Linked DNA regions of Homo sapiens: region 2 is linked to region 1. Evidence: fine-mapped expression QTL. Tissue or cell type: testis. Region 1 holds a variant in brackets; the other region holds the start of a gene. All regions are shown on one strand. Distances are from middle to middle.

Region 1 (8,111 bases):
CACAACTTTGGTGCCTACAGAAAGTGACTGGAACAGAAGCGAGCCAGTTTGTCTTGCAGAACTAAAGGCAGGTTGTGAACTTACAGGCAAATGGCACTTTGGAAAGTAGGGTAAAATGTGAAAAAAAAAAAAAAGCCAGCAAGGTCAGTTGCAAATCTCTAACTAGAGCCCCAAGTCCACCTGTCCTTCCATCTGACAAGAAACTTAGATGTGTGTTCTCTGGATATATCAAACCTGAGAATTTCTGGCTCAGAGATACCATGGCTTAAACCTGAGATATAAAGAAAACTGTACACCAAAAATGGAACTCCAACTTTCTTCGCTAACTCTGCTTTTCCTTTCCAGGCCTGCTTTTACTTTCCAGGCAGAAAACTGGGAGATCCTTCTCAGAAGAAACTGAAATGTCTTCAAAAAAGATCCCCAGATAATACACTGAGGTCTCCCAAATGAAAAGCTAGTCAGGCTTCTAAGGCCTCACACTGAGTGCTATCAGTTAACAGAAATCCTGCTTCCAAATAAAGCAGGCCAGGAACCACCACACATTGGAGGGAAGCCTCCAAGAAAAGAGATCAAAACAATAGAAAAAAGGAATTGATAGGACCAGTCAAAATCAGGAGCAAAACTTTAAAAAAAAATCTTAAAACACTCTCAAAAAATATAAAATTCAATAGAAATAGTAGAGGATAAAGTCACAGAATATCCCAGAACTAGAATAAAAAGACAAACTGAAAAAAATACAAGGGGAAAAATTAAAAATCAATGCAGGCGTACTGGTCTAAGCAGCCTAGCATCTGAATAACAAGACTATCAGTAAAAAAGTAACAGAGAAAATAAAAAAAAAAATTCTCAAGAAGAGATAGTCTGCAGGTTTAGTAGCCTCAATAAAATGAAAAGATCCCCAACAAGCTGTTATAAAATTTCAGAACCTTAGAGAGAGAGATTCTAAAAAGCTTCCGCAGATAACTAAAACCTGGTTGTAAATAACATATCACACACTGGCAATAGATTCAAGAACAACACTGTAATAAGAGCACAACTGCAAAATGTCTTCAGAACCATACAATTTAGATTCAACCTAGAGGTGTACTCTCTATCAAAGAGGAGGGATTTTAACATCTCCACACAGGAAAATGTGTTCAAGTACAACTAGAGACGATAACAGGACAGAAGGAAACACAGAATCTAGGACTCAGGCGATCCCACACAAGACAGCAGTTACATGAGATACCAAAAGACTTTAAAGAGTTAGCCCAGAAAAGCAGACATTGAGCATATCTAGGGAAACCCACGCTATATTGAACTAGGATGACAAAAGGCCAAAGAAAGTTGCCCCCCACACAAACATAAAAAGGAACAGATGTGTTTTCGCAGATGGAAAATATCTTTGAAAGGCATGTGATAAATGCTACAATACTTGGGGGAAAACAGCTGTTAGAAAACAGGCAAATGAATATAGTCAGAAAATTAGCTTCATGCTAAAAAATAATGGATGTGAAAGCAAACAGAGCACCCAGAGGCTACTTAACGATATTTGGATAGATAAACTAACGTAGGCTAGGAAAAAAGAAGATCCAGGAGAATTGCAGAAGTGCTCAGATTTCAGAACTGTTTCAGAGACAGGATGAAGGACATGGAATGCAGAGGCACAGTGAAAACACCATATGACTTAGCAGTGAATAATATTTGCAGAGTCATAATCATGTAAATATTACTGATTTAATTAAAAAGTGTGCTACAATTGGAAGAAACACAGGGAGAAACATAAGATCATGGTGTAGCGGGGAAGGTATGCTTTTACCTGCTGTGACAGAAAGTCAATAGACAGTGCTGGCAATTAACTTAGCTATTCTATTTTTGTTCTTTCATTAAAAATAAGATTAAATATTTAAGGCAATTTTTTTTTTTTTTTTGAGACAGAGTTTTGCTCTGTCGTCCAGGCTGGAGTGCAATGGCGCGATCTTGGCTCACTGCAACCTCCGCCTCCTGGGTTCAAGTGATTCTCCTGCCTCAGCCTCCTGAGTAGCTGAGATTACAGGCATGCACCACCACGCCCAGCTACTTTTGTATTTTTAGTAGATACAGAATTTCACCATGTTGGTCAGGGTTGTCTCAAATTCCTGACCTCAGATGATCAGCCTGCCTCGGCCTCCTAAAGTGTTGTGATTACAGACGTTAGCCACCATGCCCAGCCTTAAGGCAGATCTTTTGAACCGGACTATTGAAATTTAACTTAAATGTCAGAAATCTTTAAAAGGTGGACACGCTAAACTAAGCACTTTTCTGGATAAATTTAATACTCAGGAAAATAGAAGAGATTTAGAAAATCCACAAAAAGAGGTCCATGCTACCACCACCAGGTCCACATTGTAATTTAAAGAAATCAAGAGAGACATCCTTTTATGTCAAACTATCAATTTCTTAACTATTTGAGTGTTTACTTACATGGTTTGTACAGTTGCTTCTTCTTATTTCTACAACTAAGAATAAAAAAAAAAAAACTGGTCACTTCTGATACAAATACCATAAAATAAAAGTAGTTGTTAACATCTTACTGATTACTCCTATGAAAAATGAGACAAAATTCCATTAAAAAAAAAATTTTCAATAACATATAATTTAAATTATCTGGCATGATTAATTTCATAAGTCAAATCTAAAAACTTAGATTTTCATTTAGTTTACTTTTTGTTTCTATTACACACAAATGAAAGAATCCTCATGTACAAAAGAAAAGGGCAAAAAAATTAGGCCAGATGAAAAATTTAGCTAATAAAAAGTTTAACTGTTGCATATATGAGCCATGATCCATTAGTATTCTCTCATTCTGCATTTACACATAGCTTACTTTAATTATCAGACTCTAAGAGCTAACAGTTCTAAAAACTACTTCCTGACCAGACACCTATCTCTAGATGCAACAGAATCCCTGTAAGCATCTTGAACCACACTTAGTGGTTATCTACTAATATGTCACTAAAAACAAAACAAAATTAAAAAATGGTCTTTACACAACTGGAAAGTAACCTATCTTAAATTTGTTTTCTTTTTTGAGATGGAGTCTCACTCTGTCACCTAGGCTCGAGTGCAGTGGCGGGATCTCAGCGCACTGCAACCTCTGCCTCCCAGGTTCAAGCAATTCTTCAGCCTTAGCCTCCGGACTAGCTGGGACCACAGGCACGTGCCACCATGCCTAGCTAATTGTTTTTTGTATTTTTAGTAGAGACAGAGTTACACTGTGTTAGCCAGGATGGTCTTGATCTCCTAACCTCGTGATCCACCCACCTCAACCTCCCAAAGAGTTGGGATTACAGGTGTAAGCCACAGAGCCTGGCCTAAATTTTGATGTTAAAATAAGTATACAAACCTAATTGGACATGGTGTCTGCAGCACAAAAAATCATTTTTTTTCCCTAAAAAGAGGCCAGAATAATAAAAGCCCCAAGAGGGACTTGGGCCATGCTTTGTTTCCTACACTGCCTCTGCCTTTGATGCTGGGAGGGCCTTGTAGGCAAAAGTTACTACCACTGAAGAGTGAGGGACATGGAATAGCTTTTCTTTTACTGCTTCCATGCTCTCTAGGTGTGAGAAGCCCATGCCTCTGGAAGGAACTGGGAAATACAATTCTGATATGTTTTGGATATGTTGCCCCTCCAAGTCTCATGTTAACATGTGACCCTTAATGTTGGAGACAGGGCCTAGTGGGAGGCGTTTGGGTAATGGCAGTGGATTCCTTATGAATGGCTTGGTCCCATCCCCATGGTAATAAGCACATTCTCATTATGGTAATTTAAAAGACTGTGGTACTGGCCAGGTGCGGTGGCTGAAGCCTGTAATCCCAGCACTTTGGGAGGCTGAAGCGGGTAGATCACTTGAGGTCAGGAGTTTCAGACCAGTCTGGCTAACATGGTGAAACCCTGTCTCTACCAAAAATACAGAAATTAGCCAGGTGTTATGGTGCCCACCTATAGTCCCAACTACTCGGGAGGCTGAGGCAGGAGAATTGCTTGAACCTGGGAGATGGAGGTTGTAGTGAGCCAAGATCGTGCCATTGCACTCCAGCCTGGGCAACAGAGTGAGACTCCATTTCAAAAAAAAAAAAAAAGAGTGTGGTACCTTCCCCCTTCCCCTCTCTCCTCCCTCTTTCACGGTGTGGAACCACCTGCTTCCCCTTTGCCTTTTATCATGATTGTAAGTTTGCTGAGGCCCTCACCAGAAGCAGATGTTAAAGCCATGTTTGTACAGCCTGAAAATCTTTGAGCCAATTAAACCTCTTTTTGTTATAAATTACCCAGCCTTAGGTATCTCTTTATAGTAATGTAAAAAATGAAGACAAATTCTAACCAGAAATAACTGACTCAAGATGGGCAAAGTCTACTCAAACTATAAAAACAAAGGTTACAAACTCCCGTGTTTTACTGTGCTGCATTACTTCGCACATTATAATAGAACCCTCACTTGTGTTCTTGCTGTTTAAGTCAACTGGAAAACTTGGCTGTGTATGGCTTGTTGGCAAATAAATGAGGATTTAATATAACATTAAGGGAAATAAGCAGGAGTAAGGCATGTTTAAATTTACATTATATCAAATGAAAAAGTTAATAACCTAAAACTTTTGAGTAGCGTAAACTTGGATGTGGTAAATGAATGTGGTCAGAGGACTGTGTAAGAGGAGGCCCAAATCACAGATTCAATCCCTGATGATAAACGACTATGTTTTTTAATTTGTTTAAATGAAAACCAAGCTGAAGTTCTATCATTCATCTTTAAAATGTACTTTTTGGAGCAAGGGAAAAGGGATTGTAAATAAAGATGAATCCATTAATTATAAATAAAGATAAATCCAAGAATTATAAAGAGAAATCCATGACTCCTCCATCACATCACAAATTAATTGTGTTGATAAAAAGATGGCAAAATGTATAAACAAAAAGGTTACACGTTTTCACTAACATCATAACAACTAAAGGAAAGTATATCACATATTAAAATAAGACAAGGGAACATGTGAAAAGATGAAA[ATT/A]TTAAACCAATATGAGTTTTTCTAAATACTTTCTATAACCTGATCAAACAAGAGCTTTTATTCTTTCTCTTGGTGGAAAAAACAATGTCGTCTCACCATCTGTTTGAGAGTTCCTCTGGAATATTGTGCTTGCCTCTGGATTGGCAGAAGGGTTAAACTCCAAAGCTATATGCATAGAGGAAGAAAAGAAAAAAAGATGTAATCATTGATAAAAATTTATCAACTCGTTTATTCGACTGCTGCATTTAGGCTATTTCACTATCTCTACTTTGATTCTTATCCATTGAAATGAATGTATAGACATAAGAGAGAGCCAGGCAAGATGGCACATGCTTGTAGTCCCAGCTACTCAGGAGGCTGAGATGGGAAAATCACTTGAACCCAGGTCAGGAAGTTGAGGCCAGCATGAGTAACATAATGACACCCTCCTTTATTTAAAAAAAAAAAAAAAAAGAAGAGGTAAATTTTGGCTTTGAGTTGTGTAAAATCAACTTTGCATAAAATAAATCAAGATGGCAGTAAGTTTTAAAAGACAGGTCTATTTTATAGGCAAAATATAAGATGTATTCTAGAGTTTTTAAAATTTTTAAAAAGTAAATTCATCATATCTGTCACTTCCATTTCATTCTGAGGACACAGAACCTTAGTTCTCTTGAGTAGCTGTCTTCCATAGTCATGTGATATCTCTAAGTTTTCATTTCTTCGTTAGCAACACATAGGGAGAACATACACAGGCCTTATTTGTATTGGAAAGGGCCAAGTGAGACATACATAAACTGTGTTGTAATCCTAAAGAATGACAATAAAGAGCCATTTTTGGGCTCTCATCCAACACTACCCATCTACTAACTGGTGTGTAACATCCATCAGGCTTTCCGAACATCACCAAGCAGAGTATAAGTTTACACAAGTACTTACATGCTTTGTGTATAAAGGTACAATCAATTAATTCACATAATACATTTGTTTATTCTAAAGCAATCCTTAAATATCTTGAAATGTGAAGATAGTACTTCCAAGTTACAAAGTCACACTCATAATGAGTCTTAATTATCCTACCTCTTTAAAAATTAAGAGCGCAACCAAAGTTTAAATAGAAGAGCTATAAGACATTTCCTCTACAGTGATGAAATCTCTGGCATTTAAATGAAAACAATAAGCCTACTGGATGTAATATGTTTATGATGCAATGTTTTCTATTTTGAAAATTTCAGTTTTTATTCAAGAACCATATTATTACCCAGAATTACTTTTACTTAGATTCATCTCTTTGCAAAATTTTAGAGGCAAACGAACTAATTGTTTTCTCTTTTCTACCGGCTCCCATCCCCTGCCTCTGCCAGCAGTGTAGAGACTAAAAAACTCCAACTTTCTTTCCTTTTTTTTTTTGTGAGACGGAGTCTCGCTCTGTCACCCAGGCTGGAGTGCATTGGCGTGATCTCTGCTCACTGCAACCTCCACCTCCCAGGTCCAAGCAATTCTCCTGCCTCAGCCTTGTGAGTAGCTGGAACTACAGTCATGTGCCACTACGCCCAGCTAATTTTTGTATTTTTTTTTTAGTAGAGACAGCGTTTCACCATGTTGGCCAGGCTGGTCTGGAACTCCTGACCTCAGGTGATCCGCCTGCCACGGCCTCCCAAAGTGCTGGGATTACAGGCGTGAGCCACCAAGCCCAGCCAAAACTGTAACTTTCTTATCTTTGAACAAGATGCTATTGTCAGGAGGGGAAGGGACAAAGGGGGAGCCATGGCAACAAACACTCTTACAGGGAAGGTCTGACATTTTAACCTGCAATCTTTATATTACACATTGAAAGTCTACATTGACGTTTCATGTCTTTTGAAAGTTTTGACCATGAACCAATCCCCACCTCTCTTTTAGAACAAGGAGGTAAATAAAGTCTGTTAAGTCACCAGAATAAATCTGGAGACACATTTTCTGTTAAAGTAAGAACTTTAACAGAAAAGAGCTTCATAGGTAAACTCCTTTGAGAAACCCCAAACACACACACACAACCATTTTTCTGCAGCCCCGGCTGTGACATTTCACACCTTTCACAATTATTTTAAGCACTCTCCTTTTTTCTTTTTCCTTCTGTGTTCAAATTACAGTTAGAAGAAACTAAGCAGCTTCTATCAAGGTGACTTAAAGCAGCCCATTAAGAATACCATATAGCCTCTCCCATGGCAAACTCCATTCTGATTTTAAATAAGAAATCCCCAAATATTTGAATAGGAACTGTCTTGAGATTTGGCTACTTTAACAAAGGAAACAATTAGGCACTTACCTGGTTCCTTCACTTAGGTACCATCTGGATAGGTACAAAGAAAAAATAAGATGGGTACTGAAAAGTTGGGATATTTGAGTTTTTATTGAGAAAAGGAAGAGAATAGCTCAAAGAAGCCTAAACAAAGTCCCACAGGATAATAAACAGAGCTACAGACACTGTTGTCTCACCATCTGTTTGAGAGTTCCTCTGGAATATTGTGCTTGCCTCTGGATTGGCAGAAAGGTTAAACTCCAAAGCTATATGTATAGAGGGAGAAAAGAAAAAAGATGTAATCATTTATAAAAATTTATCAACTCATTTATTCAACTGCTGCTTATTCGACAAGAGCCATAAATAAATGGTCCCATGCCAGCCTGGGAGAATGAGATGAGAGAGCAAGAACTGGGCGATTGGGAGGGGAGGCGAAAAGAAACTGACTGGACTCGGTGGGGAAATACTAAGGGGTGGGAATTCAAGGCAGAGCCAGCTTTTGTTCCTGGCCAGCTCCCGGGAAAGCTGGCTACAAGCAGAAAGGAGCTCGAAGTGGGGGATGCCTCAAAGGGAACCTTGGGGACAGTAGCAGCCAGAGGCAAACCGAGGGTAGATGGCACCTATCACCTCCTCACCTTCAGGCATCTCCCGGTCACGAACGTGGTGCATGTGGAGGTCCTCACCAACTTCAACAGTCACCTCAGCAGGCTGTACAGCAGCAGCCATGGGCGCTCCTGCCATCCTGTCCCCAGCTCCTGCCTCATAGATCTCAGATTCAGAGGGACACACCGACCCCTGCTGCTGGTCAAACTCGAGGCTGACGCTAGGGTGC
Region 2 (8,111 bases), 440 kb after region 1:
CAAGGGATGCCCTCGCCCTCCCGCAGGCGCCGGCGCCCGGCCCAGCCCGAGCCATCAGAGGGCTGTCCGCCGAGCTGAGCCCGGGGAGGGCTGGGCTGCCCAGCTGATCAGAGGCTTTCTCCCGGATTGCGAGTTCTCTGGCCCGCGGCACCCTCCCGCGCGGGGGCCGCCCACCCACAAGCCCTGCCCCGAAGGCGTGTGCGGCCAGGAAGGCGGGGCCTGGTGTCCTCAGGGCTCTGGCGCCAAGTTCAGAGCCGCGCGCTGGGCGCTTGGCGGTGGCGGCCGCGTCTGCACCTCCTCCCTGCGCGCCGCCTGACAGTCTGGAGAGACAACTTAGCTTGAGCCCATTTTACAGATGGAAACCCGAGGCTCAGAGAGGTTGAGTGCTTTGCTCAGGGTTACTGAGAGGAGTGAGGTTTCTGCATCTGCCTCTTCGGAGGCATTGGCTGAAATTCATCTCTGATGTCAGGCACCCCCTCTGAGGAATCTGCTCGGAAAAGGCATCGGGAGCTGCAGCACGTGGTTTGCATCCTCTCCATGCAACAAAGGACCTAGACTTCCAGGAGTCACAGGGTAGTCTGCAGGGCAGGGTAGAGATGTTCCACAGAAGCTGGTCAAAAGCTGGAATATCATTAAAGATCACAATATACCACAACATCAGGTTCCATTATTTCTGAGGAGGCAAAGCAACTACATATTTTAGAAATTTACTGTTAATTTCTTATTTCCAGTCAGTCTCACCCAAATGTTTCAAGTGCAAAGCCCTGGCCTCCCACTGTCTTCCCACAACCCAGGTCTGTATCCTGTCCCTTGCCTCCCCTGCACCTGGCATTGCACAGAAGGTGTGGGTGGCAATGTCCCCTAAAAGCTTCTGCAAGGCTTAGCTTCCTGCTGTGCTGTCTGTGCCTCTATGAGTAAACGCAAAATGTCAAGAAAAGGATTCAATTGTCTTGTATCTAAAACCAGGTATTTTTTTCAGGTGACCCTGAAAATTCAGAGATTTATAATTTGATCATCTATGTACTTTTTCCCAGGAAAGGCACTGAACGGGTTACATGTGCAGATCTTTGTATATACTCTGTTGGAGAAAGGATCTGGGCTGAAGACGCCAGCACCTAGCACAAGCCCTGGATGAGAATAATGGGGCACTACAAGATGAACAGAGAGAGGGCTGGGGCGGGGAGGGGTGGATGCAAACGATTATGGCCAAGAAGTCACCTTAGGGGAAAAACATAAGAAGAATTCTTGCTTGCAAGAGAGAAGGAAGCCTATAGGGAGAGTGAGGGGAGAGGCCGAAAGAGAGAGAAGGAAAAAGGATAAAAGAGAAATAGCCAACAAGGCGGACACAAGAAAAAGGGAGAGATGAGAGAAACAGGAGAGGACAAGGAGACAAGAAGCAGAGAGGCAAGAGACAGGGACAGCAATGGGACTCGGAAAGGACATGGGAGAGAGCTGGAGGAAGCTGACAGAGGGAAGGGAAGAACCCCCCGCCGTCAAAGGCAGGACTCAAGAACGCTGCCTTTCGTGCAAGTGAGATGGGCTCCGCTGCCCGCGCCCGCTTGTTCTCGGTCTTGGCCGACCTGAGGGTGCGTCTCTCCCGGGCTCTCCAGAGGCGCGCAGGGGGGGAAGTGCAGACGCGGCCGCCACCGCCCAGCCCAGGGCGCGGCTCTGAACTTGGCGCCAGCGCCCAGAGGCCACCAGGCCCCGCCTTCCTGGCTGCACCCGCCTTCGGGGCGGGGCTTGCGGTTGGGCGGCTCCGGCGGGTAGGGCGTCGCGGGCCAGAGAAACGGCAACCTGGGAGAAACCCCCCTATTGATCCGTTGGGCGGCCCGGCCCTCCCCCGGCTCAGCTCCCCGGAGCCACCCCCAGCTGGCTCGGACCGGGACTGGCGCCTGCGACTATGCCTGCGGGAGGGCGAGGGCGTCCTTTGGAGGCGGTTCCCTCTCACGCCGCCGCCCTCTGGCTCCTGGGCCTGCCGGGTCTCGGCGATGGGCGAGGGCTGTGCCCGGTGCCTGCGGCTCCCTCCGCGCCGTGGACCCCCGCGGCCTCCCGGCCTTCCTTACCCCGGCGGCCTGGCGGCCCCGCGAGCTTCACCTCCCCAGCATCCGAATCGCGCAGCTCCTCCCGCGAGCGCCCGCCGCCTTCGCTCCCCAGGCCCCAGCTGAGACCGCCAGGAAGGCGGGCTCCTCGACCCCAGATCATAAGAGGTGTCTGGGAACTAAGGGTGGGAGGGGGCCAGGGTAGAAAATGTCAGTTCAAGTACGTTAAAATTAAGAACTTAGGCTTTGTTTAAAAAACAATAAATGAAGTGAAAAAAACAAGCCACAGAGTAAAAGAAGATACTTGCAGCAAGTGATAAAGGATTAGTATCCAGGATATATAAAGACTGTTATTGAGTCAATGTGAAAGAGAAAAACACCTGAAGCAAAGAATGGATGCCGGCATTAAATAGGCACTTCAAAGAGGAACCATGAACGACCAAAATCAAGTGAGTAGGTGACCAGTTCCCATTAGTAATTAGGAAATAGCAAATTAAGACCACAAAGAGGGCAGTGAGGGTGGCTCACACACCTCTAATCTCAGCGCTTGGGAGTCCAGGGCCAGAGGATCCCTTGAGGCCAGGAGGTGGAGTCTAGCCTGGGAAACATAGCAAGACCCTGTCTCTACAAAAAAATAAATAAATAAAATAAGAAAAAAGTAAACCACAAGGAGATGACTTACCACCAGGCAAAAATATTAAAGTATGCTAATACCAAGTATCAAGAAGAATGAAGCAAGATAGCTCAAATATGCTTTTGAAGGAAATATACTGGGCTTCATTCATTCTGAAATACCCCTTATTTAAGATACTCTATTATATTAAATACAGTTCCAAAACAAAAGAAATCAAAGAACAAAAAACTAACCCAATACTTTTATCACTTGTAATTTGTATATTACACATATTGAAAGATATATTTTAGACTTATTAGAGAACGATTTTTAATTGGATATCACTCTTGTGCATACAAAATAAAATAAAATTGATTAAGGTGTTTCTAACAGTTACAGTCTGACTTTTCTGAGTCCTGTTTGAGTCTCACTCATTGGTGCCTACGTCTTTCCACACACTGTAACCTCTCTGCTATTCAAAGCGTTGGTCATACAGCAGTTTTGACACTGGGATGTGAACCTGTCCACATTCTTTCCCTAGAGAGGGGGCCTGTGTTCCTGCCCATTGACTCTTGGCAGCTGTGACTGCTTGGACCAATAGAGCACAGTGGAAGTGACACTGTGTGACTTCCAAGGTGATGTCATAAAAAGCTCTACAGTTTCTGCCGTGCTCACTGAAAATACTCACTCTTGGACCTCTGGGCCACCTGTAAAAGCCCAAGCACCCTGAAGCTGCCATGCTGGGAGGAAGCCCAGGTCACACGGGGAGGCTACATGCAGGGTCTCCATTCACAGTCCCAGCTGAGCCCAGGTTTTGGGCCCTCCTGCCTAGGAGCCACACTTGTGAGTGGAGCAGCCTCCAGATAATTCCAGTGCCCAATCCTTCAAGTTATGGGGCCCCAGACATGAGGAGCCCTCCTAACTCCGCCCTGAGTGCCTGATCCTCAGAACCTGTGAGCATAATAAAATGGGCCTGTTCTGTGTCCCTAAATGTAGGTGGTCTGTTACACAGCAGTAGAGAACCGGAATGTCCCTCATTCACAAAGACTCTGGCAACACTGCAGTTTCCATCTCCTTCCCGAACTGCCATCTCCTGGGGGACTTCAGTGTCACACAAATAACCTCCCATTGCCAACACTCTGGCCTCCCAGTCCTTGACCTCCTCACCCACAGCAATGTCCTCACCTAACTCACCTGGGCTAACTCTTCCAATGAACAAACAGCAGGGTCTAGTGGTTTTAAGGGACACTGTGAGGGCTGTTATAAGGGAAATGGAGGCTTCCTCTTGTAGCCCCTCCAAAGGTCCTGTGCCTCCCCCTGATGTTGTCAACATGCAGGACATTGGGAAGAGCTGCAGGTCACAAAGTCACCATGTCAACCTTCCTGTCAACCATAACAGAGAATTCTGTCCCCAGGGTGGGGGAAGGGCCAGGCAGGTAGCTGGAAGCAAGTCTCCCAGAGCCAGCTGCTGACCCTAGTCCCTGCGATCTGGGGAGGTACCTGGTGGAGGGCCATAGTGTGCACTGGTGAAAGGGCAGGAGGAGGGGTGTGGCCCCGGGCATAAGGGGAGGCGGCAAAGAAGGGGCCTGTGCTCAGCCTCTCTGGGCCCTGGCACAGGCACCCAAGAGTGAGGTGGGGTCACAGGGACAGCCAGATAATGGGGAGCCATGAGTCCCTGGGGCCCTACTTCCTGGTCTTCCTGCTGCTGCTGCTGCTTCCTCCACCGCTTTTTAGAGCAGGAAGCCTTCGGTACCATGGACCTGACTGGAGAATATTTCACCGCCTGGCCCTGGGCTCCAGGAGAGCCCACCACCACCATGGCCCAGGATGGAGGCAGCACTGGCGCCAGGGGCAAGCAGGTCACAGATGCCAGGGCTCATTTGACCTCTACTTCATCTTGGACAAGTGAGTGTCCCTTCTAGCTCTGGCCCTGGGTCACCCTCAGGAGCCACTGTCTCTTTTTCACTAGGGACAGGACACCACTCAAGGAGATGCAAGCTTCCGTCACAGAAGCAGGGCCAAACTTTGGTCAGACCAGACCTAGGCCTCCTGTTTTTCTGAGGCAGAAAGAATGCCCTGGCTTTCTTTTCCCTGGTGCTTCATCTCCTGGATGAGGAAAAAAGCCACCAAAGGGGTTCTGGACGATTCCCTACCCCTCCATCAGCTGGGTCAGCATCCTCATCCTCACGCTGCTGCAACAGATGATTGCTCGGACCTGCCTCTCAGCAGTTCTCAGATGCTCACTGCGGATGTTTGGGGTTTCTGTGTTGTTTTGCTTGTTTGTTTTTTCACGCAAATGACTTCTATTTTACTGGGCCCCACAGAGATTGCTTTGTTGCCTGTGTTGGGCATTCTAATGTCACTGCTTAGAGAAGGCCTTTGGTTGGCTGCTTCTAAGTGCCTCTTCTGCAACTTGGAGAGCCACGCGATAGTTCCTACACTTTCAGAACAGTTTGGTCTGTTTCAGGCTGGCCCTGGGGAAGCTGGGCTACGTATTAGGCACCTTCTGGCTCACCAGGAAAGAAAAGAGGCAAATGTTCAGCTTTGGAGAGATTGCCTTGGTTCCCTTTCCTGCTCCTCCTGCTGGGTGGTAATACTCTGTGCTTATTCAGTAGCAGCAGTGGTGCAATCTTCAGGAGAATGTTGCAGCACTTTCTGGCCTCCAAAGCCCTTCCCCTGCACTCCTGGCACCTCACCACAATCCTGGGCTGTGAGTAGTACAGGTATTTTTCTATCTGGTTCCTGGACAAGGGTGGCTCCTGGAGGTTGGGGAAGCATCCAGAGACAGCTAGTGTGACAAGACTCCGGCTTCCTGTGCTGCACACTTTCCAGCATCGCAGGTTGAAATTCCTCTGATTTTTCTCATTCCTCCTGGATACTAATGGTTAGGGGACGTGTACCCCAGCCCACCAATTCCCATGGTTTCTGACTGTTCTGCTACTCTTGGGGAAGGAGCAACTCAGTTCTGGAGACAGGCAGAGTCCACTCACTAGCCACATAGTCTTGGGCAAGTTGCTTCATCATTCTGTGCCTTCGTGTCCCCCATCTGTAAAAAGGGTATCTTCATTTTCACCTTGCCAAGTGTGATGAGGATGAAGGGAGAATTTGCAGGTCAGAGGCGATGACAGAGGATGGGGATGAAGGGACCTGCCAGGCAAGGCAGAGCCACAGGCTAGAAACTCACAGGAACTGCAGAGGCCCTGATGTAATCCCAGACAGACTGGATGAGGGGGAATGCAGAGGGAGTGCCTAGAGTGGATGTAAAGGGAGCAGACAAAAGCAACCTTAATGAGTCTTCCTAACAAGGCTGGGGGTAAAGGGCATTGCCCCATTCTAAGGAGGAGGCAATGAGCCAGGTCATGGCCAGGGAATGACCCACCACAGCCTCCAGATAGACCATGGTGCTGAATTGAAACTCTGGATTTTGTGACTCCAAAGCCCATCCAAAGACCACGCAGCTGGGCGGGACCCTGAGAAACTTGCGGTAATCCTCCAGGCAGAAACAACATCTACTGCCTGCAGGCAGGCTCTTTGGTCATTAGCGTCCAGCTTATTCATGAGACTCATTATTCACTTGTTCATTGATTGGATTGAGCTGGAAGAAAATGAATCAGCCTCCCATGCGCTCCTATTCTTGGCCAGGTGACATTTGAGGGCTCTAAGTGGGAATGACCCCTTGTATTTTTTGAGTAATTTTTTAATTGTGGGAAAACATACATAACAAAAATTTACCATTTTTAAGTGTACAATTCAGCGGCATTAAGTACATTCACAGTGTTGTGCAATCACCACCATCCATCTCCAGAAATGTTTCATCATTGCGTATTGAAACTCTATTCTCAGCCGGGAGCAGTAGCTCCCTCCTGTAATCCCAGCAATTTGGGAGCCAAGGCAAGAGGATCGCTTGAGTCTAGGAGTTCAAGATCAGCCTGGGAAACATGCAAAATCCTGTCCATACAAAACATACAAAAATTAGCCAGGCATGGTGATGTGTGCCTCCACTCCCAGCTACTCAGCCTGAGCTGAGGCAGGAGGATCGCTTGAGCCTGAGAGGTCAAGACTGCTGTGTGTCAAGATTACACCACTGCACTCCATCCTGGGCGACAGAGTGAGACCCTGTCTCAAACCCCATCCCCATCAAAACCCAAAAAACTTCTATTTCCATTAAACAATAACTCCCCATTCCTCCCTTCCCCAAGCCCTAGTGACCTTTAGTGTATTTTCTCTATCTATGAGTTTGCCTATTGTAGGTACTTCATGTAAGGGGAGTCACACAATGTAATCAAGCAAACATATAATATTTGGCCTTTTCTGTCTGACCTTTTTCACTTAGCATAATGTTTTCAAGTTTATCCCATGTTGTCGCATCCATCAGAATTTCATCCCTTTTATGGCTGAATAATATTTCTCTGTATGTATATGTACCACATTTTCTTTATCTTTTTTTTTTTTTTTTTTGAGTTGGAGTATTCTGCTGCCTGGCTGGAGTTCAGCGGCGCGATCTCGGCTCATTGCAACCTCCACCTCCCAGTTTCAAGCGATTCTCCCTGCATCAGCCTCCTGAGTAGCTGGGACTACAGGGGCATGCCACCACGCCAGGCTAATTTTTGTATTTTTTAGTACATACAGGGTTTCACCATATTGGACAGGTTGGTCTTGAACTCCTGACCTCGTGATTCCCCGGCCTTGGCCTTCCAAAGCGCTGGGATTCCAAGCGTGAGCCACCTCGCCCGGCCTGTTTATCTTTTCGTCTGTTGATGGACACTTGGGTTGCTTCTGCCATTTGGCAATTGTGAATAATGCTGCTATGAACGCTGGTGTATACGTATCTCTTGGAGTCCCTACTCTCACTTCTTTTTGGTATATGCCAGGGAGTGCAATTGATGGATCCTATGGTGATCCTATGTTTAGCTTTCTGAGGAAATGCCAAGCTGTTTCCCACAGTGATTGCACCATTTTGCATTCCCACCAACAAAAGCCCAACATTTGCTATTTTCTGGTTTTTGATAATAGTCACCCCAATGGGTGTGAAGTTGTATCTCCTTGAGGCTTTCATTGGCATTTCCCTAGTGACTAGTGATGTGGAGCATCTTTTCATGTGCTTATTGGCCATTTGCATATCTTCTTTGAGGAAATGTCTATTCAAATCCTTTGCCCATTTTTTTTGTTGCATTTTTTTGTTGTTTCTTTTTCGTTGTTGTTGTAGGAGTTCTTTGTATATTCTGGATATTAATCCCTTATCAGGTATATGAGTTGTAAATATTTCCTCCCATTCTGCAGGTTGTCTTTTCACTCCTTTGGTAGTGTCCTTTGATGCACAAAAGTTTTTAATCTGGATACAGTCTCAACTTTTCTATTTTTAATTTTGTTGCCTGTGTTTTTGGTGCCATATCCAAAAAAATCCCCAAATCTAATGTCATAAAAGTTATGTTTTCTACTAAGAGCTTAAAAGTTTTAGC

What was found. PIP is the estimated chance that this variant, and not a neighbour inherited with it, causes the effect.
Region 2: it holds the start of ANTXRL, and the variant in region 1 is fine-mapped to the expression of ANTXRL in testis (GTEx, PIP 0.97).

Annotation. Positions count from the first base shown.
Region 1 is chr10:45,839,211-45,847,321 of GRCh38, forward strand. AGAP4 (ArfGAP with GTPase domain, ankyrin repeat and PH domain 4) reads right to left here. Exons shown (of 8, transcript NM_001276343.3): 1 at 7,915-8,111; 2 at 7,477-7,545; 3 at 5,116-5,184; 4 at 2,443-2,477. It also overlaps the pseudogene PARGP1-AGAP4. Among named protein-coding and RNA genes, the nearest start is that of AGAP4, 4.2 kb to the right of the region's middle. The variant ATT/A (reference allele first, on the strand shown) is at 5,018.
Region 2 is chr10:46,282,954-46,291,064 of GRCh38, forward strand. It overlaps ANTXRL (ANTXR like), which reads left to right and starts at 4,044. Exons shown (of 17, transcript NM_001278688.3): 1 at 4,044-4,557. The coding sequence starts at 4,310. It overlaps LOC105378577 (a long non-coding RNA gene), which reads left to right and starts at 1,897. Exons shown (of 1, transcript NR_160731.1): 1 at 1,897-3,044. RefSeq lists silencers at 84-233, 1,598-2,087.